4 linked regions of the Homo sapiens genome follow. The protein of the gene in region 4 purifies or fractionates together with the protein of the main gene of each other region. This does not show direct contact. Each region holds a gene or a part of one and is shown on either strand. Other genes may lie near its edges.

Region 1 (7,528 bases), on a different chromosome or scaffold from region 4:
CTTATCAGACTTAAAATTATTTTCAAACAATTCGTGTTCTTTACTGATATACAAAGAAAGCTGAAAAGAAATCAACTTCTTACAGTGGAATAGAATTTATTCTCTTTTATTTTCAGCTGCCCAGTTTTGTCAGTAAGGTGTAGCAGGTGTACAAGTGGTTGCAACACCATTAAAAAATATAAAAGCAGTAGTTATATTAAATAATGTTGAAGAAAACATATACATATATATTTAAGGAATTTCACTAAGCACTAACTAAATTTCATGTTGTTGGGAGGTGTTATCTGGCTGGAGTGCCTCTTAATTCTTTTTAAGGTAATTTAATTATTTCTTGCCAATTGTTCTTTCTTGAATGAATGATTACATCCTTAACAGAAAACCTGGGTGTATAAATAATACAGCTGAAAGAAACAGAAGTGTACACCTTCCAACAACATACACTCCCAACCACTTGTGTTGTTTTTGGCAACAACCAAAATGCCATTGCTTGCACAAAAAGTAAATAAATGATCATATGATGGCAACATTCATCATAAGAGAGCCAGTAGGCAGTGACTGTAAGCATCACAGCCACCAATTATGTCATTTTAGAATTGTGAGCAAATTCACAAGAACACACAGTGCAATTTTTAGCTGCATACATTTCTTCTGAGCTCCAACTCAGCAATATGCAATCTTGACATCAAAGCATTAGCCAAATATTTGAGGAAATTTTCTTACTAAAATACCAAGTATCTGATAAATCAATTTTACCAAAATATATAAACATATAGAAGGATAAGTGCATTTAGTAGAAATACTTACAATAAAAAAATCTCTTAAAATCTATGAGCCATTCAATGTATACACAACGCAAGAAGTGGCAATAAGGCTATGATTACAGCTCCAGGTCCTGACTGACCTCGCCAAGTTCCATACACAATATATTTTTTAATGCCATGTGATTGCAGTGTGTGTGCGTGTGTAAGGTGGGAGTGATATTCACACATATGTAGTTCTGAACATCTACACAAACGGCATGCACATTGTTGAGAAGTTATCTGTTCTCTTATTGCATACATCTTACTCACTGTTGAATCCCTAGCAGTTTTGGGGTTGGGTTAGGGTCAAGCATAGGAAATCATCATATTTCTTTCCTTCTCCACTCTTGAGGATCTGGAATCAGGTCACAGACTGTGCTGGGTCCACACGCTTACATATGTGAACCTTCAAGTAACTACCATTCCCTCAATAGGCCCACATAGACACCACGGACAAGCAAATAAGGACCCTCTGTCTACCATAAATAGAACTTGATGCTTTCACTTTCCAGGAGAAGCTGATTCTGTCGGCTTTCTCTTTGCCCCTCCAACTTCTTAGTTGGGCCTATTCTATGCTGCTACTTCAAGTTACTCAAATGTGTTTTGTCTGGTGTTATTTTTTTCTCCAGTGTTTTGGACCAAGACTAGATTTCCTGAGACTTTAAATACGCAAGACAAATGCAAACAAAATCTGCCAACATACCCAGGCTGCTTTTCAGGAGTGAATCACTGAAGCGCATTTGGATTTCCTATAACACTACTTTCTTTTGGGAATGTACAGCCCTCCCCCAGCTCCCCATCCCCCATCATAATGTAAACCATTCTAATAGAAAATATGGATGTTTTGGCTGGGGGTGGTGGCACATGCCTGTAGTCCCAGCTACTTGGGAAGCTGAAGCAGGAGGACCACTTGAGCCCAGGAGTTTGAGGCTGCAGTAAGACATGATGGCACCACTGCAGTCCAGTCTGGGTGACAGATGACAGAAAAAAAAAAAAAAAAAGAAAAGAAAAGAAAATATGGACATTTTATTTCTGGACTTTATCCTTAAATGCTTAGCTTTAGAATAGTGCACAGGTACATCCTTAATAAAAAGTAAATTTGAAAAGACAGGAAAGGACTGTGCTTTTCTCTTCCATTTTACCTTTTCATTCTGAGACCACTAAGGTCTTTGCATTAAGTAGGTGACGTGAACCCTAGTGACCACTGCCCACCAAAATGCCCCTCATCTCCAGCTCTGTCAGGAGTACCTTTAGTTACTCAAATGGAAATATCTCAGTGTAATGATGGGGCTACAACATATCCAAAGTATAGATGGTTCTCTCAGGGCTGCTGGGGCAGCTTCCTTTAGAATCCTCTAGAACACTATTGTTAAACACTGGATCTCCTCTTGAAGTTTAGTCTGCATAACCTTTAACACTTAAACATGAATCAGAGTATCTATATAAATGCAAATTTTCATTTCCCTTTTATAAAATGCAATTTTCAAGCACATGCTAATTCTGGTGCACAATGAACCCAGACAAATTTGTCTTCAGCACAAACTCTAACGGCCGAGGTGCTAGATCAAACCACCTGTGACCATTTTTGTAGCTTGGGACTGGGATATTTTAAGATTTCAGGCTAGTGATGATTACAGGGTCACAGATAGTGGCAAAGGTAAATCTGGTTCCTCATTTTCCCTCTTGCCACTTTGTTTCCAACAACAATGGAGCAAAAGGTGACAGTCCCATTTTGTGCCAGTTGAAAGCTGAGTTTGGCTTTAGTACCTATCATACTGCAATCATGAACTGCTGTGGGTTAAAAAAAGCTTGTGATGTTGAGGGTGTGAAATCAATTGTCAATCCCAGCTAAAGGATGATAGCCACAGAACAGCTTTATTGTCATGAAACTAAAGGGGGACTTCATCAGGAGTGTTAGAATGGATGAAATGAGGTTTCTTCCCTAACTTAACATTCTGCAGAAAATTCCTGATTCAGGTAAAAAAAGAATGAGATTAGTATTACATAAACTGTGAGTTACTTGAAGGGAGATGGTCTTAAACAAAGTAATCTGTTATAAAACTAACATCCTTTAATGGGAAACCCTGACCCAGATACAGCTCATACAATGCTTTCTGTCTGCAGCTTGGCCTCCTCACCACACATTCCCTCCCAACAAAGCATAACCTATACCCCAAAACACTTTTGGCTATTGTTAGAATCATACTGAGCTCTCCTTTAGGGAATCAGTTCATAGCAACCAGATATTCCCTTTTTGTTCATTTTCTGATAATAAAAACTGCAGTTTTTAAGGTTGATGAAATAACAATTCTGTGTTAAATTGTAAGGACACTGAAAACCACTAGCATTAAAGTAGGAATTGTGCAAGACATTGGAGCCTTGATTAGGTATCATGCACTACAGTCAATAAAAGAAATAATAGGAAAACAAAATGTGCACAAGATCTGAGGTCTTTCACTTTGCTTTCATACCCTTAATCAGTTTACATCTTATGCTTTGTGGGGCAATCAAACCAAATGACTTTTACAATTTCATCCGTTTTAAGTGGTAATGTTAAAATAACTCACTTCGGCCTAAAATTACTATAATTTAACTTAAAAAATCAAAATACTTATAATACTAAATGATTTTAGGAATAAGAATTTGATTTATAACATTGTCAGTTGGACATTTATCTAAACATTCAATATACAAAGTTATAAAGAAAAATACTTCTAAGATATTTAAGAAAATGCAATATAATAGATCATAAATTAGGTGCAAAAACAAGACACTTACAGACATTTCCAGTATATACATCCATTTTCAAATATTACCAAAGTGTAAACATAACTTAAGATAATCATCCTTCTATTTCTACTCTTGAATACAGTGAAACTTCCAGTGTGATCCAGGTCACTTTTTTCCCAAAGATAAGCAAAAATGGCAAAAATTTACAATAGCAAGCACTAATATTACCAGATTTTTACTAATTTAGTGTTTTAGTATTTGAAAAGTTTTGCCAAATTGTATCACTCATTAATAGTGGCTTCTTATTTCTCATGATGTGAAAAAATAACAAAGCACCAGACATCTCAAGACATTAATAGAGTATCCAATACGGCAGTTTCATTATCATACCCCTAATGAAGACAGACAGAAAAACATAATGGTGACTTTGATAACTGTAAAACACAATGTTACTTCATGTCAACGTTTCTGAGGATTGAATGAAGGGTCTGTACCTAATGACAAAAGAGCTGACGCATAACCGACAATACTCTGGCAATGAAAAGAAAACAGGCCTTGGGGGTAAAACAGAATTAAAAATGTCCAGTTTAGATAATTTCTGAATTCAGATTTTCAGATAAAAAAAAATCACACTGTTATTAAAATACAAGATGGGGCTACAAGGGAGTTCCCTTAATCTGTTACACTCAAAAGCCTTGCCGAGGCTCTAAATATGGAATACTTCTAGTGGAAGATACGAGATGCTGGGAACAGAGCAGAGATTCCCATAAAGTAAAAGAAGTAAAATACTGTCCAAGAATTCATGTGGCCTCAAGTCTTATTCTGAAACTTGTCCTTTGGAAAGTGGATAACCTCATTTTTAGAGTCAACGCAGCAAAGAGAACCAGATACATGAGCATAAAAAACAAAAAACCCTCATCACATGAAATTTCTCAAAACGAGTTTATTTTCTCCTTCTTCTGCCCCAGTCTCCTGCACTTGACTTAGTTTGGTGAAACATGGAAATCCTTAATGCTGGCTTAAAATTAGTATAAGTTCCTCCACTACTAAAGTATACCTATGCACTGCCTTAAACAAACTTTTTCTGTAAAATTGAGAATCTTTGAAGTATGGAAAGGAATGGTTCGGAAAAACCATTCAAAATCTCTCTAAAATGTTAACTGACAGTTTCCTCTAACTGGTATTTCTATTTTTCTTAAAAGTACATTTGTTAAAATACTAACTGAGCCCACCTGGGAAATCTTGAGTAGAAAATATGTGATGAGTTCCTGATTGTGACATAGGCAGGCTGAAGACCAGCCAGAATGTTCCCCAGGAGAGGAAACCTGAAAATGGTGGTTTCCTTAAAAATCAATTTCCTGTTCAATTTCTTGGGTTAGGTAGGGGGAAGAGGAACTGTGTTGTGTTTGCCAGTGTTGCTGAAATGCTGAACACACAGCAGTAGCAAGGTCAACAGATCCCAATATCCCATGGCTGCATTAATGTCTGATTTTTTTCTTTCTTGTTCAGCCGTATCTAGAGGATAAATATTACCCTCAGAACCCCAAGGTAATACCCACATCCACATTCTTAAGGCTTTTGCTTTTTTCAGTGGTTAACAAATAGCTATAATTTATTTTCTTTCTTTTTGATGCCTAGCAAGCAGAATGACTTGCTTGCCTTTTCCCTTAGTAGGTAACTACAGAGCAGAGCACCCATGTTTCCACAGCGGGGTGGTCTCACTGTCCAGACTGAGAATTAAGAGCAAATCTTTCCCACACATTGGAGTAGGTGTTGCAGTCCTAGAAGTTAAGTACTGGTCTCAGATCTCATGGCAGGGTGCTCTCTGCCATGCAGACATGTGCAATTGCCATTTCAGGATCCCACACTGAAAATTCACGGCGCTCCATTAACAACACCAGGGTGTGTCATGCTCTTGGGTGGGGTCACACTAGTTCTCCAAGTGACAAAACACACCCAACACAACACAAGATGTTGGTAAGTTAGAGAAGAGCAAAACACAGCTACTTAAATGAAATCTCTGGTTTGTTAATGAACCAAAGGTGGCTTGGGATTATTTTAGTAGTTAAAATTAAGAGTGCATTCTATTGCAGAAAATGCAGTTATTCAACACACAGTTCCTCAGCCGGCCTAGAGCCGCATTACCCTTATCATTTAGTTTCTTTTTCATCCTCTGGAGGAGAGCAGGGCAGGAAGAGGTGGGGACTTCTCTTGGAGCATCTCCATCATCTGTAAGAGGGTATGTGTTACTGCTCACCAGCACCCTCGGCTGTAGTTGACGTCATCTTTTCTGTCTTTTTGGACTTCCTCTGCATTTGCTCTTGCTCCTTTCTCCTTAGCTTTTCTCTTTGTTTTTCCATTTTCTCTTGGGCCTTCCGAGCCTTCTCTAGAGACATCTTCATTTCCTTGAGTTTCTTTTTGACCACTGCTCGGTCCTGGGATGCTGTCATTCCAAGAGCCTAAGAAAGAAACACACACACAAACTGAATTTGAAAACCAATGAGCCCTCTGATGGTGTTAACATACCATATATCCAAGTTCGTAAACTAATTCAAACATTGAAGAGGTAAGAACAGAGGAAGAACTAGTTACATTTGCTAAAAACCAACACACTGGGGGCTACCCTTTATTTTTTCTTTTGTTCTTTGAAGTCCCTTGCAAAGTATACCCTAAAGCTCATTAATTAAATGCTTTCCAAATGAGTAATTAATGGGTGAATGAATGGAAAAAGGGCACAATTCTACTTCTCCAACCTTTGGGCTGTAGGCATTTACGGGTAAAGGTATTGCTAAACTCATCAATATTTTCAAAGCATAGGAGTGAGCACCTGCTGTCACAGAGGGCTCCAAGAAGGGCAAGAAGAATTGAAATGGCTTCCTTTCTGCCAATGTTTTCATTACAATGAGAACCAAAAATGTCTTTGGGGCCAGAATGCTCGTGTCAGCATGACTAGCCATTCTTTCCCTGTAGGCAGACCTATAAAGGAAGTTGATTATAATGAGGAGGTTGCTCGATGAACTTAGAATTCAGAATAAGGGGAGTTGCTTATGTACTTTAAATGTTTCGTGACCTTCAGAATCAACAGCAGGATGCATCTATCTATCTCCCCAACAGGGACAGCCTTGTCAATGAGGCCTTCATATTCACAAGCTATTGATTGATCTCTAACCTTTTCAAGATTGTCAAGAGATACTCGTCTGCCCGTCAGCCCAGCAGGGGGCTGAGGCGGGGGTGGGGCTTGGGGGTACATGGAGTTGGCTGTAAGCACCTTTTTCCCTTTCCCAAAGGGATGGATGCCACCTTGGTCTCTAAGAGAGATGGACTGGACAAGTGGAAATGAAAGTGCCATGGAGGGGAGGGAAGATGTGTGTACATATTTGGGGAAAAAACTTCTGGGGAGAACATCATCCCAGTTTGGGAGTGGTGTGTAAGGAAGAGTGGAGGTGAAGGAGAAATGAACAAGGAAAAGAAGACTCGTGGATCTGGGTCTTAATTCTAATGTGATGAAAAAGTCCACAGTGGCCATTATTAAAACTCATACTACATCAGATGTAAGGAGAGTTAATATATGGACCATGTGTTGCCAGGTGGAAGCAATGGAGTGGGTCCCTCACTCTCCTAATCAGCAGCCTACCATTTGATTTGGAACCCCTGATGGACTTTCTGAGACTTCATTTACTACTCAGAAAGAATTCAACATCCTTTCTGCTGAATATTGATGAGAATTACCTCTCAGATATGCAGAATGCTCTTACCTAATGAAAACATTTTAGGTGATATGAGTAATACAAATTATACCTGGTAACCTAAGACAGACATATAATTCTTTACCTTAAGTTTATTTCCATCCAACTGCAGGAGCTGTTCTCCAGTGATGTTTTGGGCACTGAATTCAGATACATACTGCTCCAGATTTAGGCTCATTAACCAGTGAGAAACCTGCTGCACACTCCATTCCTGAACGGCCCGATTCTGACACTGACTGTGTTTGGGAGACT
Region 2 (7,528 bases), on a different chromosome or scaffold from region 4:
GGTCACAGACTGGTAACTGTTTGTGGCCTTTTAGGAAGCAGGCCACACAGCAGGAGGTGAGTGCAGGCAAGCATTACTGTCTGAGCTCCGCCTCCTGTCAAATCAGTGGCAGCATTAGATTCTTATAGGAGGGGAACCCTATTGTGAACTGCGCATGTGAGGGATCTAGTTGTGCGCTTCTCATGAGAATCTAATGCCTGATGATCTGAAGTGGAACAGTGTCATCCCCAAACCATCCCCCACTCCCCAACACTGTGCATGGAAAAACCGTCTCCCACAAAATTGGTCCCTGGTGTCAGAAAGGTTGGGGACTGCTGCCTTACAACACTTTAACTCACTTTACACCCTTTTTGTGCAAGTACTGTCTTTTGAAAAACTTCTACATAGTTCAAACTCCAGAAGACATTATTAATTATTGATACTCCTTACTTGTGTTCACATATGTAAATTCTCAGTTGCTGTTCATTCTCCTCTGCATTTTCATGTTTCCATTACGGATAATTTTCCTTCTGTCTGAAGAACAGTCTTTCGTACTTCTTTTAGTGCAGGTCTGCTGACAAAAACCTTTTCCAATTTTTTGTTTCCTTGAAAATATCTTTACAAGGTCTTCATTTCTATACAAGTTCTAGGTTGGCAGATATTTTATTTAAGAACTTTCAAGATATTATTTCACTGTCTTCCAGCTTTCATTGTTTCTGTTGAATAGTCAGTTTTCTTGCTGCTTTGAAGGTACTGAAAGTACTGTTTCCTTTTCTGTGACAGCTTTTAAGATTTTCTCTGTCTTTGCTTTTAGCAAAATGCTATTCTCTCTGTGTGTGTGTGTGTGTGTGTGTGTGTGTGTGTGCACATACACATACTATAGTGTAATATACTATTACTAATATACTATTATGTGTACTATGATGTGGTTAGTTTGCTTTGTGTTTATTCTATCTAGGATTCATAGAGCTTCTCAAAACTGGCTTGGTAACTTTTGTCAATTTTGGAAATTTTTCAGTCAGTATCTCTGAATGTTACTATTTGTTTCTTTTGCCCCATTTCTTCCTTATCATTTTATCCTAAAATTCCAGTTAAACATAAGTTAAATGTTTCATGGTTTCATGTCGTCTTCTTCTTCTTTTTTTTTTTTTTTGAATTTTCATACCTTTATTCTCCATGCTTCAGTCTGGATATCCTCTACTGACCTAACTTCCAGTTCATATAGTGTTTCTTCTGCATGCCTAATCTATTGCTAAAACATCGATCGAGTTCTTAATTTCAATGAACAATGAATGAGTAACTTTTTAGTTAAAGAACTTCCATTTGATTCTCTTGTATATATTCTAATTATCTTGTGAATTATTTTTCTATACCTAACATCTTGCATATTTTGTTCACAGTTACTTTAAAATGTGTACCTGGTAACTCTAATATCTGGATCATTTGTGGTCTCTGTTATCTTTTTTTCTCCTTAAATTTTAGTCATTGCTCTTGTTCTTTGTCATGCCTATTAAATTTTATTAAATGTTGAAGAAAATGTACAAAAAATATATGAAGAAAAATGTTATTTTTCTTCCAAAAGGATTTAATTTTTTCTAGAAGGCATACAGAGTAGAGGCATATCACCTTGATAAAGTTTGGGATTGAGACGATTGATTCAGTGCTTGATTTCAAGGTTTGTGAGGACTAACCTGTTTCTGGTTTGTTATTACTTCCAAGGCATTGTCTTTCACGGATCTGATGGAAAGCCTGCAGTGCTTACCAGTGCTGTCCCTCCTTGACAGGCTTGCAACTCCAATTTTTTGTTGTTGTTGTTTCTTTTGGGGTTTTCTTTGTTTTTGTTTTTTGGTCTCTCAAGCACCGTAAGACTAATGAGCTTTTCATTCTCTTATCTGCCGCTTTTGACTTGGCGTCTTGGTCAGAGAAGCTTAAAAATTGGTGAATTTCCCAAAGGGAAAAGCAGCACAAAATGTTAGGCTCACTTCCTTGTGATTCCCTTTTCTCTACGATCATGGCCTCTCTCAAGGCTTGGTTGCTCTCTGATACCTTTAAACAGCTTATTTTCTTTTTAATTCAGCTTCTATTGTTTTCTGTGGAATAAGATTGGTTTGGTACATGCTATTGTGTCACAGTCAGAAGTGGAAGTCCTAAATTACAAACAGTATTGTTGCAACTGATTAAGATGGTGTACATAGGAAGCCCCTTGGGGATGTTGTAAAGGAGCACCAAAAGTTTTAACTGCTCTAGAATATGTACCATTATGATGGCTACATGTGGGTCTCCTGAAGCACCTAGAAGCTCCTTTTCTCATTCTATTCAATAACCATTTGCTACACCAGAGGTGTACAGTGGGAGACCTCAAGAATCGTTTCCCTGAGTGCTGTTGAAGCAACTCCCAGCCTTGATCTCTGCTGTTTTTTCATTCTTTCGAAAGTGACTTATTGCATTCTTTGTTAGGAAGTGTCTGCTAACAAGCTTTGGCTTGTTTTTTATTCTCGTTCCCAAGTACCTTTTCAATATATTTTTATTTGAATGCTATTTACGTTATTTCTACTTATAGTTAGTGTCTGAAAGCAAACTAAAAGATAAGATTTAGTAAATGTGGAATGGCATAAAAGTAGTGAAAAGAACTTACATGTAAATCAGAAACCACAACAAGCAGATTCTCTTGAGGGTATGCATCTTTCTATACTGGAAAGCAGAAACAATAAACCAATCCTACATATTCTGCCTGCCAAACTTGCAGCTCCCATGTGGCTCTTTTCTCTTTCCTGGTGAGTAGCACCACCTTTGCAAATCTGCCCATGTCAGAAGCCTGAAATGGGGAGGATTTGTTGGGGATGGGTAGAGAAAGTCTCACTTAACCTTTATATCGGATTAATCACTGATTTTATTGGTTCCATCTTACTACCCTCTTCTCCTTCCCCTTCTCCCCATCCCTCCCATGAGCCCACATCCTCTCACCTGATTTGGTAGTCTCCTAATTTGCCTCCTTGTACCAGTATGACTCCCTTCCAAATTAGCCTTCTCCTTAGACATTAAGTCATTTTTCTACAATGCAAACATAAGCATGTCACTACCCTACTTAAAACCCTCTAGGATATATCCAGAATAGGCAAGTCTATAGAGACAGAAAGCAGATTAATGGTTGCCAGGGGCTGATGGGGAGAGGGGGAGTGGGAAGTGATTACTGATGTATATGGGTTTCCTTTGGGGTGGTGAAAATATTCTGCAACAAGATAGTGTGAATATACTAAATGCTACCGAATCATACGCTTTAAAATGGTTAAAGTGGTAATTTTATGTTAAGTGTATTTTACCACAGTTGCTTTTAAAGCCCGATAGGATAAGGTCCACTCATCCCAGCATGTCACTTGGGGCATCACATGGTCCCACTAGCGTTTGCCTGTTCATCTGTCTCTTCTGTTTCCCTCTATTCCTGCATGAATGGGACGACATACAGACTGCTGCATGCGCCCGCAGCTTCACGGCCCCTGCATTTCCACACAGAATTTCCTTTGTCTGCGGTGATCCCTCTGCTGCACGTGCCCACAGTTTCATGCCCCTGCATTTCCATGCCTCCTGCATTTCCACGCCTCCTGCATTTCCACACACAGTTTCCTCTGTCTGCGGTGATCCCTCCACCCCCACCCCACCCACCCACCACTCTCCGTCCAGTGATCTCCTTCAAGACCCCCAAGAAGCTTCCCCTGACACATCTACATCAACAAGCCCACTGTGAACTTCCCTCTCTTTTCTGTCATCTAAACAGGCACAACTGGGAAACCTTTACTGGCAGGTCTTTGTTTCTAGTTCCAGGGAGAATTATATTGTTTTCTAAAAAATAAAGTGGAATGAAGCTTTAAAGTGTTTGTATAACCCTGTTGAAATTCATGACACATTTGTGACCCCCTGGAACATCTGGAACACATGAAGTTAGAGGCTGCAGCTCTAGTGTGGAGGCACCCAAAATAGACAGTTCTATTCAGGGAGCCCTGAGATTAATCTTGTCACATTTAAATACGTAATTACAGCCCTGACACATTTTGTTACTCACCTCTAAAAGCTGCCAAGTGGTCTGTTATCTTTGATTTGTGAATGGTGAGTGGCTTGATTATAAACAAGAGTGGTTTATTTTTCCACACTCAAAAATATATTTATTTTTGAAGTTAATATCAGTAAAATGCTGTATGTGAATCTGCTTAAGAATATGCTTTGTTTGGGAATTTTGTGGCATGTGAAACAACTTTGTCCCTTAACAAGCTTTCTCTTCCCGCAATATTAATGACACAATTTACAATGCCATTAGGGTCATTACACATGGCAGCTCAGAAATTGGACCAGGGTCAGGTAGGTCACTGAGAGGAAGAGTAAGAACACCTGACCCCTTCAGCGCTCCTTCACCACTTGATAATTATGGACAGGGAAGGTGTGTGTGAGTGCGCATGTGCGTGAGTAAATACCAGGAGAGCGGATACCCAGGAAGTGAGGTCATGAGTAGGTATTAAACAAATTTCTACTTGTATTCATGAGTAGGTGTTAATCAAATTACCTTGATGTAAACAGAGAATTCCCTGGTTTGCCACAGAGTAGAAAAAAATTCTCAACAGTGGTTTTCAACAAGCAGTTGGAACAACAGCATCAGCATTGCTTTGGAATTGTTAGATATGCAAATTCTTAGGCCCTGCCCTGGACCTTCCGAATTGGAAAGTCTGGAGGTGATGCCTCACGATCTCTTTTAATGAGCTCAGGTATTTTTATGCACGTTCAAATTTGAGAGTCATTGTTTTGTTTTTTCGTTTGTTTTTGAGGTGGAGTCTCACTCTGTCGCCCAGGCTGGAGTGCAGTGGTGCCATCTTAGCTCACTGCAACCTCTGCCTCCCAGGTTCAAGTGATTCTCCTGCTTCAGCCTCCCCAGTAGTTGGGATTACAGGCGTGCATCACCATGCCTGGCTAATTTTTTTTTTTTTAATTTTTAGTAGAGGCAGGGTTTCGCCATGTTGGCCAGGCTCTTTCAAACTCCTGACCTCAAATGATCCGCCCACCTCAGCCTCCCAAAGTGTTGGGATTACAGGCATGAGCCACTGCACCCAGCCAAGAACCATTGTTTTAAACAACCTTTTTTAAACCAAGGTTTTTTATGAAAATGTAGGAACACCATGTTCTAGGGTAGTTTAGGTTCATATAAGCATATATACATATATATTCATTTATATTTAGAGATGGGATCTCCTTTTGTTGCCCAGGCTGGAGTGCAGTGGCTCAGTCAGCTCACTGTAGCCTCAAACTCCTGCAATCAAGCGATCCTCCTGATCTCAAGCAATCCTCCTGATATAGGCATTTTGATTCTGGATTTTCAATATAGATAAGTGTTGGAAGAATAACGAAAATGACCAATATTTACTGAAGACCATCCCAGGCCGGGCACTGTGCTAAGTATTCCAGGGACATTATTCCACTAACTCCTCACACAACTCACAACTACCCCACGAGGTAATACTTGTTTCCCAATTGTAAAGTAAAGGAACCTGAGGCTCAGTGAGGTTAAGTTCCTTGCCCAAGGTCACACAACGTGCAGTGCCTCTTGCCATGCTCCTGCACTCTGACTTCTGAGCCCAGGCTGTGAAGCACTGTGCTATCCTTTGTTTGTCCTTTGTTAGCTGCAGCACTGGTTCTGGGGGCAGGATGACCTTTAGCTCTTGGGTATTCAATTTATTGGTGTTCCGGACCATTGCTGCCAAACTCATTTCCAGTTGAAGCAGCTGGGTTTTGTCACACATATGACTTTGTTAAGTGTCCTCAGCTGAGCTGAAGCTGCACAGAAATCACTCATCAGATTCCTGCCAGGGCCAAAGATATGGATGAAAATCTGCAGGAAGAAATGTCTAGCCTGGGATTGCGGGGCGGCAAAAGTTTCCCTCTGGAGTCCTATGAAGGGGTTCTTGTCACACATGTTTACTTTCAGTTTGTGATAAAAAGTGGGCATGCTGGGTTTCCAGTTGCAAGCTTCTACACAAATGGTAGATGGGTTTCACAGTCATTGCAGTGAGGCACAAATGACCATTGATCAACTGCAGCAAAACACAAAAGTTTCACATTTGCATGTGAAAGAGTTAAGTCTGGTCCCACATCTGCAAATGGGATCTGCCTCCCTCACTGTAATATGTGAAATACAAAAATACAGAAAATTATGTTTATATCTGCAATAATTTTTTTCATCAATAAACCTCAGAGGGCTATTGAGAGGTGAATAAAAATGTTCCGTGACTAAGCTGCAAATTTCAGTTCAAAGATAAGGAATGATTGAGTAGAGGGTTTGATTAAAAACACCACACCGGTGTTTGCATCAGAAGTCAGGGTTCTAGCTAGTTATCTCACTTAACAATTGTGTGACTTGGACAAGCCACTGAATAATTCCAAATAGCTCAGTCATCTCAATGCTCATGTGAATGGTGCTCCCTGTAGTTGTTCAGTGCACAGCTTGTATAGCTGCGAGCTGCAAGGTAAATATCATCTAATAGTGTTAATCCTACTTACTGCACGTCAAGGTTGTAAGATGGAGGGTGTTGGGATATAGGGGCAGATTTTCAATATAATAAATGTACTATCCAAATATACTTTTTCTGCCTCAGTTTCCTTCAGATTGAGACAAGTAGAAGAACCCAGCCTCTTAGGAAGGGCCTTGTGAAGGTGACCTTTAATTGCTGATCGTGATTCTGCAGCTAGAAGTTACTGAAAGTGATGTCCTTTTTGCATACGTTTATTCACTTCATGCACTGGTACCTCCTGTCCATTCTCCACATATGGAACGAGACATCTCAGGCCAGGCTGACCTCTCCTGCATGTAACTTCCCAACACTCAGTGTCAGTCCTTGCCCTTTTGGCACTGAATCATGACAGCTTCCCGTTTCCCTCTACTTGGAATATTAGCTGACGCTAGAGGCTTAACGAGTACAGAGACCAGTCCCCTTTTGCTGATTGGATCTCATCATTAGAGATGTTTTAGGAATGCTTTATATCACCCAACAAGGGCTTGGGTTACGTAGGTGTCTGCATTTGTCAGAACTGGTGAGTCTACACTTAAGACTAGCGCATTTCATTGTATCTTAACTTGACTCAAAAGAAGAAAATCTGTAAACACATGTTGAACTCTGATGAATAATGTGATGCTGAAGTGTGTGGGGGAAGTGCACTACATGCCCATTTTACTTTGAGATGTGTCAAAAATATAAGATGGATTAGTGGATGGGTGTGGGATGCATAGAGGCACCCTTATGTGAGAAAGCAAGTAAAGTGAAAGTTCATGACTCAAAATCGTCACTATATGAATTGTTTTCGAATTTGCTATGTTTTAAAATGTTTTATAATCCAATATTAGGAAAAAAAAGAATGTTCTAACTCTATGCTGCTCAAAACATGACTTTCTTTCATTTCAAGTGTCAAGTTTTTTGTTTTGTTTTTTTTTTTTTTGTTTTTTGGTTTTTTTTTTTAAGAGATGGGGTCTCATTCTGTCAACCAGGCTGGAGTGCAGTGCATGTGGCATGATCCT
Region 3 (7,528 bases), on a different chromosome or scaffold from region 4:
TGATTGCTGCACAGTTATGCAAAGCAAGGAGGAACGTCTGACATCATGGGGAAGAAGAGGGAGTGAGGTGAGTGGGTGGTGTTTGGCTAAGAAGGGATCTTCAGCATGTAGCATCCATGTTTTTAGCATTTGTCCTCCTTTGGGTAAGATTGTCTTCTACCTCCCTTCTACTGTTTTCAATAGCTGAACATTTGGATTTTAATTAAATAGCCTAACAATAATTATAGCTATCATTTAGTATGTGTTCATTACATGCCAAGAATTTTACATACATTACTATATTCATCATCACAACAACTTGATAAAGTGGGTGTTATCTTCATTTTCCAGTGGAAACTGAGGCCTGGAGGAGTTAAGTAACTTGCCCCTTACACCGTACAGATGCTCCTAGATTTACAATGGGGTTATGTCCTGATAAACCCATCATAAGTTGAAAATATTGTAAGTTGAAAATGCATTTAATACACTTAATCTACCGAACCTTAAATGTGTCCAGAACAGTCACATTAGCCTACAGTTGGGCAAAATCGTCTGGTAACACAGTCCACTGTAGAGTATTGGTTGTTCATCCTTGTGATGGTGTAGCTGACTGGGAGCTGCGGCTCGCTGCCACTGCCCAGCATTGTGATGGGGTATCGTACTACATGTGGCTAGCCCCAGAAAACATCACAATTCAAAATTCTAAGTATGATTTCCACTGAATGCCTATCATTTTTGCACCATTATAGAGTAAAAAAATCCTAAGTTGAACCATTGTAAATTGAGGACCCTCTGTGCTTGTGTAGCTAACTACTAAGTGGTGGAAGTGCGATTGGGGATCCCAAAGTCCATACTCTTTAGGTATATACTGTATGGTATGATGTATTTTAATAATAACAACAGTTTGATTATCTAGTTGGTTAGCCCCTGGCAGATGTCAAATTACTTTCACGTCTATTATTGTAGTTGATTCTTCCAAAAACCACTGTGAGATAGGTTTGGAAGCCCAGGTTAGGACATTACAACTCTTAGAACTGTATTGCTAAAGAGCTGTATGTTATGGCCTGTATGAATAAGCTGTAAGTGAATGAAACTTTACTTTTAAAAAGTTAGGTTGCCAACATTTAAAAATAAGTTCTTTTTTCGAAACATTTAAAAGTGGTAGAACAGAGTAGATCTTATATTGCACTCAAGGCTTTTATGTTTATTGAAATCCATTTTAAGCCCTTTTTATCTTACAGCCTTTAATAGAACATTGCACTTTGCTTCTTAACTGAGACCCGATGCCAGAGTGTCTTTTTAAGAAGAGAAATAAGGAGGGAAGGAATGTGCTTATAAAGAGGAAGTGGGACATCAGAATTGGAAACACTCGCAGCAGCAGGCCATAGATTTTTCCCAGCACATGCTTTTTGTCCTGGCAGTAGCCTTTTACAGAAGGCATTCTTCCTTAGGGAAGTGTCAAGGGTCTTTCTTTACAGTATCCTCTGAGATCATCAAATTTCTGAGCTCTGTGGGAACACTCATTCCACATGATTTTTGTGCTCATCCCTTCCCCACAGGGGAAGTGAACTAGTTTAGGCATCTGCATGAAAAGGGAATAGCAGTGGTATCTGTCCTTAGGGTGGCACTGAGAGTGGCACTGGGCAAGAGGTACCAGACTTTGACACCAAGTACAGGAGCAGACTGGAGTTTAACACTTGGCATCATGGATTGTTTGTGGATTCCTCAGAATGCTCCTGGGCAAATGGAAAAGTCAATATTAGGTTTTTGTTGTTGTTGTTGTTTCTAAGATAAGAATTTGAAGACTGGAAGTTCTGCCTTGTTTATTTATTTCAAGCTAGGACACCATTTGGGGTCTTCAAGTTCTGTGGTATAGGTGAGAGTAACTTTAGTCTCCTCAGGCTATGAAATTCTCCTCCACTGGCTATTTTAGACTTTTGCCTCTGGAGGAGAGGCAGACACATGGTTTGCTAAACTCTAACAGGTGAGCACCTTCCAACTTACCATAAGCAGCATAGAGGAGGAAAAAGGATGCTTCCCAGCATTACACTCTTACAGCCTTTGGTAGGTCTTTGCAGTTGTCAGCCTCTTCCTCATCAGTTCATATTTTATTAAGCACACAGGTCATGCAAGACAATGCATTAGACCCATTTTAAAAGGAAGAAAGGAAATCCATTGTGCTTTCAGGGTCGTTGTAGCAGGGCAGGTGGATGCATCCCAAGAGTGGATGTTGGTGAAATGAAGAAAATGGCTATGACAGCTGTAGTGACCAAGACCAGGGGAACACTTGCTTTTGAGACAAAAGCTGAGAACAAACAGAAGCAAGAGAGTGGAAGAAAACTGAACACAGGTGCCAGCTTCTCTGACTTAGGTTTTATTTCCTCCAATCTCCAATGATGTGAAAGCGTTCAGGTTCAGAACCCTGACTGAGGTCCAAAAAATGATATATAAACTACCATTCTATGCGAGAAGGTTTGAATAGCAGTGTCTTCCCTGGTGCATGGCAGGTCCTTGGTACCTCCGCCAACTCTCTTCTCTACACACCTGCCAGCATCCCTTCCTCATCCTGTGTTCAATGTGGCTGTCAACTAAGGCTGTTAATAGACTTCAGGCATATTTGCATTTTAAAAGGCTCTTGTGGACAAGACATGCCAAATCTCCAAAGAATGAGTCATTCACATTGAGTTATATGATATTATTCATGCTACTGTTTATTAAGTATTGGGTGCTTGCTTTGTGCTAGGCCTCATGCTGGGTACTTTCTGTAGGTTGATTTCCTTCTCATCACTATCCCTTAGTAGGAGGTATTTGTAGATGAGGGAATTGAGTCACTAGCCCAGAGGTCAAGCCTCAAAGACCCCTTTGCTTTCCAGAACAACGAAGTGCCACCAGGTAGAGTGTACTGTGAAGCTTTGAATGAGTACTGTGGAGCTTTGGGCAAAAACTTTGATTCTTTGGGTGAGTACTTTGATGCTTTGGTCACTTTTAAGGAGTTCTTTTTAAGGAGTTAGAGGGAGAGCCCAGCTGTTGTCCCTCTCCTTCCTGGCTTGTTTCCTTTGTCACCTGAAGTCAGGATTCCTGTAGGTGTCCTTGGCTGGTCCAAAGCTAGGAGAATTGGTTGAACTGCTTCTCAGTTTATCCTTTTCTGGGTGTTTTGGCTTCCCAGTCCTGCGTCATTCTCCTTCCCCAGCTGAGGGAGACAAGATTCAGCCTGCTAGTGAGAGACTGAATAGCCAGTCCCTTTTCTTACCCCCTTGCTGGCCATGCCTTTATCTTCAGGAATAGATTGTCATCTGGGAGTTTCAGGGCGTTTGTCTGATCTCTGGTCTCCAGTCTGCCTGCGAGCAGCATGCCACAGGGCATCCAGTCCTGGAGCTCGCTCAGATCTTTGATGTGTGAGAATAAGCGGTGTGGATGCCATTGCAGAGCTGGGTTTTGGGAAGAGAGTTGGGGTGAAATTTGTACTCTTCCAAGATAGGCAGTTTTATAAATAGCAGAAAAGTAAAAATTGACATTCTTCTTTTGCTTATCAGATAAGCACCTGATAAGTTTCTGAAAATGCAAGGGGCCTGTCTTTCCTTGATAGCTTAAGAGAGGCTTAAGAGGAAACCAAATCTCTGCCTTCCGGGGACTTTCAGTCCAATTCTTCCTGGACTCAAGATGCTTTAAGATTGCACAGATGGCTTAAGTTCGCTGTGTTAAAATGAAAATATAGTAATGTATTTCAGAATTGTACATTACAGGTTTTTAAATTTGTTTAAAAAAAGAATGCAATATCTTTAAAGACTTTTTAGAAAATTGAATTGAAAGGACAGTGGAACAGATTATTAGTTATCGACATTATAATACATTTACACGTCATTTGCCTACTTAATTTTCACTGGTTACATGAAAGCATTTTCACATTGCAACCACAACAAAAAGCTCCCCCAAAATACACAAAGAATCTTAATTGCAAGATTCCTGCTGGTCCCACTTAACATTTTCCAGTGTACACCTTCTCTCTCCATCATTGCTGCTTTGCTTTACATTTTATATTAGATCCTGAATTGCTATTTGTGATGTTCAGATTGCAAATATACTAGCTTCCTAACTGATCATTTTTTCCCTTAAAAGTACTTCAGAGTGATTGGTCACTGTTTTATTCATTTTAGACCCACAGTCTAAATGCTTTAAGGAAAAGCTTAATTTTCATAGACATTGGGCCTATGCCAATTTGCATGGCTTGTTATTTTTGTGATCCTCATATTATCTGCTTCTAGTCATAATCGGTAGATCACAGTTTTGAGCTACCCCTGATATAGTGAGCCATCTATGAAAAAGTTCTCGCTTGCCTGAAATTTTCAAAGTGTTGAGAGCTATTCATAAAAATGTATGAACTGCCACGTTGGTCAGGTTCAGGGCTTATTTGCCGTAGTACTCTGCAGGTATTCTGTGACATTCAGGAAGGAAAATAGAGTTAGACTCCTGATGTCAGCTTTGTAAAGGTTCATAGATGTCTCTTGAGTATCTGTAATTACATGATCTCTTAAAAACCTCTTATCCATGTACTGAAATTCATCTTGAATTGTTTATTTTTATCCTGCATTCACACAATTCACACTTTAAAGATAGAACTTGATTATATTGGTATTTTTATTTCAAATTTTCAATTTTTGGAATGGCAGAATGTTGCTATTGAAAAGTGTCTTAAAGGTCACCACTGTAACCCCTTCATTGTGCTTGAGACCTGCTCAGCTCCTAAATTTAACAGGGGACGGATCTGAGAAACTGACTCCAAGTTGTAACCTCTTGCTTAGTTTTCTTTCTAGGGAGATATCCGTCTCTCCAAACCTGTCGAAATCTAAATTTATTACCTCTTACCTAATACTTGGTCCCCTGTGGACTTCACTTCACTGTTTGTGCTAATAGCCTTTTCATCACCATCTTGACTTTGGATTCTAGAGCATCACCTACTTCCCCATTTTCTGTGACCCTTACATTCCTCCTGTCAGTCACTATGTCTGATTTATTGTTCTCCCCTATCTTTTGCCCTTTGCAAATCCTCAAGCCCTCATTCTGGTTCAGACCTTTAAAAGGCTGAGTTACTGGAGTATAGTGTTACCCAAAGTGAGTTGTTCCATAAAAAATTAGTAAGTTGGAAAAAAAAACAAAAAACAAAAAAATACCCTACCCATAAAGTTGGTAAATGTTCCTGTAAAAAGGGTTCCTTGGCCAGGTACATGTTAGAATAGCTGGTTAAGTTTCTTTGCAGAAAGACTTCTCCTGGCCTTCATTTGTGACTGTGTACTGTGAATTCCCAAGAGAAAGATACAGTATTCACTTGTCCCAACTTATGTCACCATTGTACCACGTTTTGGGGGGATCATTTCGTAGATAACACTGCTATAGTCACTTCACTGTAGCTTTTTAGGTTCTGTCACTGCCTGGCTTCCTGTGGGAATGTGCATTCCATGTGAGCCGTACTTGGTTCACTCTCAACTGTGTCTTGTGCTTTTACCTTGTTGTTCTGGATCGTTCCTTCCCCCCAGAAGCCCCTCTCCCCTATCACACTGGCACATCTTTCAGTGCCCAGCTTTGTGCCTGTCTTCTCTGTCAGTTTTCCCAGACTCAGGTTGCGCTTGTTCTTCTGAACTTAACTGTTTCACAACTTAAAAAAAAAAAAGAAAATATTTGAAGCACAATGAAATGTTGAAAGTAACCTTACACATTCATATGGTTAAATTATTGGAATTCCCACAAAATTCCATTTTCCATATTTGCGTCAGTTGACACATCACATGCACATCACATTCTCCTCTGTTTCCCCCCACAGGTTAGCTTGCACATATGTTCAACAAGCTTGTTGCTTGTGGGGCTTTTTTCTTTAATTTTGTGTTACTGAAATTGTGTTGCATTTAAATAGAAATTCAGGGAGAATTGACATCTTTATGGTTTAATGGCTTCCCATCCACAAACCTCATAAGCTTCTTTAATAGTTCTTTTATGTCCTTCAATGAAATTTTTATCATTTTGTATGTAAAACTCTTTCATACCGCTTGTTAGATTTGTGCCAAGGTGCTTCATGGTTTCTGTGGTCATTTTGAATGAATGATTTAGTACATTTCTGGTTAGTGTTGCTGGTGTACAAGAAAGGGATTGATTTTGTATTTGTTTATAAATAGTTCTTGATTGATCAAGTTCACATCTAAACCTGTGTTTGCTGTGGGAGCCTGCAGTTGGGTGGCTTTTCCAATACAGCATAAAATAACTTAGCCTTTATTGAAAATGTCATAATTCACTTTATTTTTATTTATTTATTTATTTTTTGAGACAGAGTTTCGCTCTTGCTGCCCAGGCTGGAGTGCAGTGGCATAATCTTGGCTCACTGCAACCTCCACCTCCCAGGTTCAAGCAATTCTCCTGCCTCAGCCTCCCGAGTAGCTGGGATTACAGGCATGCAACCACCACGCCTGGCTAATTTTGTATTTTTGGCAGAGATGGGGTTTCTCCATGTTGAGACTGATCTCGAACTCCTGACCTCAGGTGATCCACCCACCTTGGCCTCCCAAAGTGCTAGGATTACAGGCGTGAGCCACCGCGCCCGGCCTCTTTTTTTTTTTTAGAGACAAGTCTGGCTCTGTTGCATAGGCTGGAATGCAATGGCATGATCGTAGCTCGGTGCAGCCTCATACTCCTGGACTCAAATGAGCCTCCCACCTCAGCTTCCCAAGTAACTAGGACTATTGGTGTGCGCCTCCATGCCCAACTAATTTTTAAATTTTTTGTAGAGGTGATGTCTCATTGGTCCCAGGCTCCTGGCCTCAATCAGTTCTCCTGCCTTGGTTTCCCAAGTGCTGGGATTACAGGTGTAAGTCACCACACCTGACCTAATTTAAAAATTATATGCAGTACTTTTAGAAGTAAGGAAGGGGTGACTTTTAGTTATTTAATGTGTTCATTTATTAACTCATCAAATGTTTAGGTGCCTAGTATGTTTCAGGCACCGTACTAGGTACTGTGTTTTTGTTTTTGTTTTTGTTTTAGAGACAGGGTCTCTCTTTGTTGCTCAGGCCGGAGTACAGTGGTGTGAACATAGCTCACTGCAGGATCGAACTCCTGGGCACAAGTGATCCTCCTGTCTCCACCTCCCAAGCAGCTAGGACTACAGGCAGCATCTCCACACCCCACTCATTTTTTACATTTTTTTGTGGAGACGGGGTCTTTCTATGTTGCCCAGGCTGGTCTTGAACTCCTGGCCTCAAGTGATCCTCCCTCCTCAGCCTCTTGAAGTGTTAGGATTACAGGTATGAGGCACTACACCCATCCTGTACTGAATCTTTAATGTTGAACAAAACAGATGTGGTTTCTGCTCTCATGAATGTGAAGGGGAAGAGACATTGTGGAAATGGACACGGATAAATATGTATTCGTGGATTAGCATCGATACTGTGAAGGAAAAGGACAGGGGGCTGTGAGAAACAGAAAGGCGGAGAGAGGGAAATTTAGATTGGGGTACAAGGAGAGCCTGACTTAGGAAATAAACATTCACACAGCTGCCTGAAGGATG
Region 4 (7,528 bases):
TGTAATCCCAGTTACTCGGGAGGCTGAGGCAGGAGAATTGCTTGAACCTGGGAGGTGGAGGTTGCAATGAACCAAGATTGTGCCATTGCACTCCAGCCTGGGCAACAGAGCAAGACTCCATCTCAAAAAAAAAAAAAAAATTAAAAATTAGCCAGACATGGTGCTGCGTGCACCCCAAGTCTCAGCTACACAGAAGGCTGAGACATGAGGATCACTTGAGCATGGGAGGTTGAGGCTGCAGTGAGCCATGTTCACACCACAAAAAGGATTTGAAGACAGTAACCTCAGCATTAAACCCCAAATGCAAGGCCTTCTGAACATGGCGTCTTGTGAGTGCACAAGGTGCATGCCCATGAAGCTGGCACTGTATAGTCTATATATAATATATGTATTGAATATATGCATATTTATGAACTACAAATATAAATAAATAGTAATAGCTCAGTCACTTGCAAACCTAGATACTTTTTTATTAAACTAGCAAGGAAGGAGTAGTTAAAGCAGACTAGAAAGTACACATAATTGTGCAGACGCCTGTACCATGTAAGCACCTCATAATACTATGTCAACTATCCTAAAGGTGAATAATAATACAAAGTTATTATAAGGTGATATAAGTAAAATATTTAGCTTAATAAATATGGGGAATATAGATATTTCTTAAAATCTTACCTCTCCCATTTCCTGTCTCAGTTGTTCAAATTCTTGTTTCTCCATTTCTAGCTTATGCTTCCGTTCCTCCTCTGTTCGTCGTTTTTCTTCTTCCATTTTTTGTTTTAATAATTCTTCAAAATTAATTTCCAGTTTTCCCGGTGTAAGAAATTCTTGAGAGATTGTCTTATACATCTCTGGGGAGTCATCATCTACTACCTATTTAAAATAATTATTTTATCACTCTGGCCAGAATTACACATACTAAAAAGGGACTATTTCTTGAAGAAACTGGGATTTCTTTTTTTTGTTTGTTTTTAGTTTTTGTTTTTGTTTTTTGAGATGGAGTTTCACTCTTATTGCCCAGGCTGGAGTGCAATGATGTGATCTCAGCTCACTACAACCTCTGCCTCCCAGATTCAAGCGATTCTCCTGCCTCAGCCTCCCAAGTAGCTGGGATTACAGGCATGCGCCACCACGCCCGGCTAATTTTGTATTTTTAGTAGAGACGGGGTTTCTCCATGTTGGTCAGGCTGGTCTCGAACTCCCGACAGGTGATCCGTCTGCCTTGGCCTCCCAAAGTGCTGGGATTACAGGCGTGAGCCACGCACCCGGCCAGATTTCTTAAATAGGTTTCACATTGAACAAAAAACAAGGGGACTTAACAGTAAACAAGGAAGTCTCAACACAGTGTTCAAAAATAAATAAATAAAAGGGAAGAATTATTAGAAAATGTAAGACCGAGGTATTTTGTGGTTATGAAGGAAATGGTAACCATCTATTCTCCATTACAGTGAAGACAAAGAAATAATTTATTCATACCATGAGTACTTTAAATTAGACATTAAGATTTCCTAATTTGAGAACATTTTTTAATTGGATTGAAACGACTCCCCAGGTTGGTAATTAAAGCATTTAAGTTAATCATGATTTTGTCTGAATGAATTAGATAACCCATCATGATCTCTTCATAATCAGGCAAAAATCATTCTTAGTGCTATGAGTTTATTGTTTATTTGCTGTCTGGCTAATTTTAAAGAAATAATAATAGTTAATACTTGGAGCTGCCAAGTGCAGTTATAAGCACGTAAAGTGTATTAATACATGTAAAATGTATTAATTTATTTAATCCTATGACCCTATGAAGTAGTTACTAATATCCTCATTTTACAGAGAAAGAAACTGAGGCACTGAAAAGTAATTGTCTAAAGTCAACACAAATACTATGTGGCAAAGCTGGGATTCAAACTTCAAAATATTTCTAATAAGATTATAGGCCGGGCACAGTGGCTCATGCCTGTAATCCCAGCACTTTGGGAGGCCAAGGCAGGTGGATCATGAGGTCAGGAGTTCGAGACCAGCCTGACTAACATGGTGAAACCCCGTCTCTACTAAAAATACAAAAATTAGCCAGGTGTGGTGGTGGGCGCCTGTAATCCCAGCTACTGGGGAGGCTGAGGCAGGAGAATCACGTGAACCCAGGAGGTGGAAGTTGCAGTGAGCCGAGATTGCACCATTGTACTCCAGCCTGGGTGACAGCGAGACTCCATCTCAAAAAAAACAAAAGATTATAGGCCGGGCGCGGTATAACATAACCCTCTGGCCTGAACTGTGACTCTGTGGTTGAAATACACACAGGGGAATGAGAGAGGCAAGGGGTATTATTCATTTGCTCCAAGTTTTATCAAGGTAATCCAGGCTTTACCACAGAACTATTTCAACTCAGAAACAATGTTTAAGTGGTTTACAATTCAAAGATTGCCTGAAATTTTTAAATTTTACATATGCATGAACTAAGCTATGGTATGAAATTACAATACTTATTCCTGGATAAATTACAATACTTATTTGTGGATAAGAAAACAATATAAATGTAAGAGGAAGGTTTTCTCTCTTCTCTTTAGAAATGTCTTTAGGAAACTTGGTTTTGTTTTAATGCAGTTTTCTCGCCTGCATTTTTTCCGCTAGTGAATCATGGTAAAAAGGCAGTATTGGCCTACAAATCTGCCCCAAGGACTAGGTCTAGTAATCTTCACAGTTACTTCTCTTCTACCGCTTCTTTTTTTTTTTTTTTTTTTTTTTTTTTTTGAGACGGAGTCTCACTCTGTCCCCCAGGCTGGAGTGCAGTGGCGAGATCTTGGCTCACTGCAAGCTCCGCCTCCCAGGTTCATGCGATTCTCCTGCCTCAGCCTCTGAGTAGCTGGGACTACAGGTGCCCGCCAACACGCCCGGCTAATTTTTTTTTTTTTTTTTTTTTTTTTTTTTTTTTGTATTTTTAGTAGAGACGGGGTTTCAACATGTTAGCCAGGATGGTCTCGATCTCCTGACCTCGTGATCCGCCCGCCTCGGCCTCCCAAAGTGCTGGGATTACAGGCGTGAGCCACCGCGCCCGGCTTCTTCTACCGCTTCTAAACCTGCTTATTCTCCAAAAATTAAGTGCATTCACAACGTCTGTAGGACTTCTATGTAGAAACCATTTATGAATCAGGGATTACCTACTGCACGTAAGATTTCAATATCACTTGTTCCATCAACATTTATTGGAGGTCTGCTACGCTAAGCATTGTGCCACATGTTTGATGAACAGTCTTGGCCTCATGGAGTGGAAAAGACAGCCATAAGTGGTAACAATACAGGATTAGCGCTATGATAGAAGAGTACTAAATGCTGTAAGAATTCATGGAAGGTGTTTATTATCAGGAAAGGCTTTCCAGAGGAAATGGAAAGTTATGAATTGGAGTTAGCAGAGCATAGGGAAAGGAGTGAGGGACATCTTTCAGACAGTGTGAAGGCTGAGTCTCACTTTGAAGAAATACAAACAAATTCAGCATATTTGGAACAAAGAGCAGATTCAGGAAGAATCAAGAAATGAAACGAGAGCAATATACAAGAGCAAGACTATAAAGAAATTTGTTTTAGAAGTTTTTGGATTTTTGCTTAAGAAAAGTGGGGAAATATTAAGCAAAACAGTAACAAAACACAATCAAAATTTCTTTCTTTTTAAAGATCACTCCTGGCCTTACAGGAAAGAATAGGTTACAGGTAAGAAAGCAAGTTAATGAGGAGTTGGCCCCAGGCAAGTTGTAACAGTAACTTGGATTATAGTAGTGGCGGTGAAAATGGGGGGAAAACTGACAGATTTCATAGTGATTTAGGAGGTAGAATAAACGAGACTTAGTGACTGGTTGGACATCAGGCATGAATAAGAAGATGGAAGTGTTTCAGGCTTCCACGTTTCTGATTTGAGTATCTGTGTGGGCAATAAAGCCAAATAAACACTTGGACATATGTGTGTGATGCTCACCCATACAGAGGAAGAAAACCAGGTTACGATATCACCAAAGCTAATTACAGTGTTTCAAGAAGGAGATGCAGTGCTCTAGTCTCAAATTGCTTCAAAATTGTTTGTCAGATAACTGTACATTGTACAAACATAAAACTGGTATAGGAAGTACAGTCATAACCTTGTGACAGTTAAGTTAGGTATCAATTTCCAGGAGTGATGAGTGAGCATTTTGAAGAGAGAAATAATTCTGATTAAATGACTCAGGTCATTTAATATATAGTAGGTGGGATGAAAACTGAAAGAAGGAAAGGAAGGAAATAAAGGAATGAAGGAGGGAGAAAGGGAGTATGGGAAGGAGGTGGCGAAAGAATGGAGAGGAAGAAAGAAAAGTTGAGGGAGGAAACTCCCTACTTCTTCTTCTTCCTTGGATACTTAGTTCTGGAAAACATGCCTTCCCAGAGAAGGGAGATAATATTCCATCCTTTGTGCCAAGCATGGCAATTTAAAGCAGAATCTTCTGAACACTAAATTGAAGCAAATACCTTCAACCAACTGGTGTTATTCCATGGGAGACTTTAAAACATATTTGCCATTTCTACTCTTGGCACAGTTTCCAGAAATAATAGGGTATTCTCTAAAGTCTAATGATTCTATTAACATATTCTCAAAGGTGAATTCTAATAGCATTCTCCAGTTAGCTTCTGTCTTACCATATTTCTCCTTGCTTCAGCAAACGCCTTCTTTTCTTCCTCTATTCTCCTTCTGGCTTCTTCTTCTGCTTTCCTTTTTTCATCTTCTCTTCTTTGCCTTTCCATTTCTTCAAAACTGAGTTTGAGTTTACCAGGGCGGTACCCTTTAAAAATTTTTGCTGTGTCTTGGTTTTCCTCATCTTCATTTACCTAACCAAATAAACAATTCATTACTAAGAATTGAGGTTCATCAGAAAAAGGAATGAATTATTAATCAAAAGGCACAGAATTAGCCACTATCACACAGGAGTTTCAATGCCCTTAATATACTTGACCTAAATCCCCTTCCTTTTTAATGTCTTCTATGATAAAATATTCAAATTTGGAGAAATTCCATATAAAGATGTACTCAGGTTAAATAAAACTTCTCAAATAAGCCAAATTTCTATAGATAAAATTGAATATTAAAACATTTTTAGCCAGGTGTTGTGGCGGCTCACGCCTGTAATTCCAGAACTTTAGGAGGCAGGAGGATCACTTGAACCCAGGAGTTCAAGACCAGCCTGGGCAACATAGCAAGACTTCGTCTCTACTAAAAACCAAAAAACACATTATAGCCAGTGTGGTGGTGTGTGCCTGTAGTCCCAGCTACTCGAGAAGCTGAGGTGGGAGGATCCCTTGAGCCCAGTAGGTTGAGGCTGCAGTGAGGGGTTACTGTTGAGTATTAACTTTCCCAGAACAAATATAAAATGCGTATGTGTGTACTATAATTGGGGTTCAAGTATATCTACACAGAATCTCTTTGGTAGTAAAATAATGTTCTCATTTTGTAATTTTTGTATTTTTTTTTTTACTGTGAACTATGGTACCTTATACTAATCAGATAAAAGATTATTATCTAGAACTATTTTATGTAAAATTCCAGCTTTATGATTTTATCATTAAAGGTTTATTATTAAATTTACTATAATATCAATTGAAATGTATTATTTATTTAACAATACTATTTCTTTATTAAGTTGACCACCAGAAATATCTAAAATGTGCAGATATTATGCAGCTATACCCGAGTAATAACATTTTCAAATAAATGTCTAGAAAATTAAATTTTTATATATATAATTCTTAGAACATCATTCAAGAAAGCTGATCAAGAAAGTTCTGTAACTTTAAAATTACAAATATTCCATTTTTAGATCCTTTTTTTTTTTTTTTGAGACAGGGTCTCACTCTGTCACCCAGGCTGGAGTCCAGTGGCTCATTCATAGTTCGCCGTAGCCTTGATTTCCCGGGCTCAAGCAATCCTCTCGCCTCAGCACCCGGGGAGCTTGGACTACAGGTCTGTGCCACCACACCTGGCTAATTTTTGTATTTGTTTTTGTAGAGACATGGTTTCCACATGTTGCTCAGGCTGGTCTCAAACTCCTGGGCTCAAGGGATCTGCCTGCCTCAGCCTTCCAAAGTGCTGAGATTACAGGCATGGCCACCATGCCTGGCGCATTTTTAAATCTTAAAACGAGGTTTGGAATCAGTGTTTTCTTATTTCAGTTTTACTTTCTGTTGATAAATCTATTAATACCATAGTAATAATTAACATTTTCAAAGAACTTAGTATATGTAACAAACACCATTTTAAGTGCTTCCTAGATATTAACTTGTTTAACCATTTAAGAAATAGGCATTGAAAAAAAATCCAAGTCATTGTGGAAGTTAAAAAAAAAAAGAAGTAGGCGCTTTCATTTTTACCATTTTAAAAATGAAGAAACTAAGAGAGATTTAATTAATTAACACAGCGAGAGATTAAAACAGTTGTCCATGGTTACACAGTTAGTAAATGGCTGATATCTGAATCTAGACAATCTGGCCCCACAATCCATGCTCTTAACCACACTACACACACACACACACACACACACACACACAGACACACACACACAGAGGCATGCACACAAATATGCACACACATACACTTAATAGGACAAACTGCATATTCCACCGTAAACTGTTATTTTGATATGTTCAAACAGTTGAAAAACTGGACTGCTGAGGACAAGTTTACACTTATAATCAGTCCCGCACCCATGTCATTAAGTACTTTGCAGATTGAACTAACAGATGAAGGAAACCAGGTTCATTGAGTAATTATTTTGCATATTTATACATTAATAACAATGTATAAAAATAAAAATTTAAAGCATATTGGGTAAAATGCCCCAGAGTGAAAACTGGAAAACAGTATGGATTTTTTTTTTTGAGACAGTCTCATTCTGTTACCCAGGCTGGAGTGCAATGGCGTGATCTCAGCTCACTGCAACCTCCATCGCCTAAGTTCAAGTGATTCTCGTGCCTTAGCCTCCCAAGCAGCTGGGATTACAGGGATTTCACAGTGTTGGCCAGGCTGGTTTCAAACTCCTGACCTCAGGTGATCTACCCACCTTGGCCTCCCAAAGTGCTGGGATTACAGCATGAGCCACCGTGCCTAGCCTAGATGTATTTTATATATGAAATATGAATACAATTAGAAAATCAGCCCTTCTATATGTAAAATCTCTTTGAATTTGTAGTAGTAAACCTTATCTTAAGTCGGCTAACTTCATTAATATTAATTGTAAGGTTTAAATATGTAGATTTACCATTTGCCGCCTTGCTTCTTCAAAAGCACGCTTCTCTTCTTCTAAACGTTTTCTTGCTTCCTCTTCAGCTTGCTTCTTTCGGTTTTCTTGTCTTTGTCGCTCCAGTTCTTCAAAAGTTAGTTTCAATTTTCCGGGAGAAAGTGATTCTTTTTTTGCTTCACTTTCTATTTCATCATCCTAAGAAAACGTTATGAAAACCCACCTTTTAGTCATAAAGGAAAATGCTGCTAACTTAAACTGCCTTGATTTGTTTCTTAGAAAACAAACAA

Evidence for each region.
Region 1: the proteins of NEXN (region 4) and PPP1R9A purify together in Homo sapiens (affinity purification with mass spectrometry; 2 studies listed by BioGRID and IntAct, with this or other methods). This does not show direct contact.
Region 2: the proteins of NEXN (region 4) and CPVL purify together in Homo sapiens (affinity purification with mass spectrometry; 3 studies listed by BioGRID and IntAct, with this or other methods). This does not show direct contact.
Region 3: the proteins of NEXN (region 4) and MYO1B purify together in Homo sapiens (affinity purification with mass spectrometry; 2 studies listed by BioGRID and IntAct, with this or other methods). This does not show direct contact.

What each region holds. Positions count from the first base shown.
Region 1 is NC_000007.14:95,288,552-95,296,079, reverse strand, and holds part of PPP1R9A (neurabin-1), read right to left. Parts: coding exon 7,362-7,528; intron 5,990-7,361; coding exon 5,777-5,989; 3' UTR 1-5,776. UniProt on the Homo sapiens protein: Binds to actin filaments (F-actin) and shows cross-linking activity. Binds along the sides of the F-actin. May be involved in neurite formation. Inhibits protein phosphatase 1-alpha activity.
Region 2 is NC_000007.14:28,996,471-29,003,998, reverse strand, and holds part of CPVL (probable serine carboxypeptidase CPVL isoform b precursor), read left to right. Parts: intron 1-2,614; exon of another isoform or gene 2,615-2,670; intron 2,671-2,943; exon of another isoform or gene 2,944-3,030; intron 3,031-7,528. UniProt on the Homo sapiens protein: May be involved in the digestion of phagocytosed particles in the lysosome, participation in an inflammatory protease cascade, and trimming of peptides for antigen presentation.
Region 3 is NC_000002.12:191,247,942-191,255,469, forward strand, and holds part of MYO1B (unconventional myosin-Ib), read left to right. Parts: exon of another isoform or gene 1-16; coding exon of another isoform or gene 17-67; intron 68-7,528. UniProt on the Homo sapiens protein: Motor protein that may participate in process critical to neuronal development and function such as cell migration, neurite outgrowth and vesicular transport.
Region 4 is NC_000001.11:77,926,624-77,934,151, reverse strand, and holds part of NEXN (nexilin), read right to left. Parts: intron 7,437-7,528; coding exon 7,260-7,436; intron 4,837-7,259; coding exon 4,648-4,836; intron 871-4,647; coding exon 673-870; intron 1-672. UniProt on the Homo sapiens protein: Involved in regulating cell migration through association with the actin cytoskeleton. Has an essential role in the maintenance of Z line and sarcomere integrity.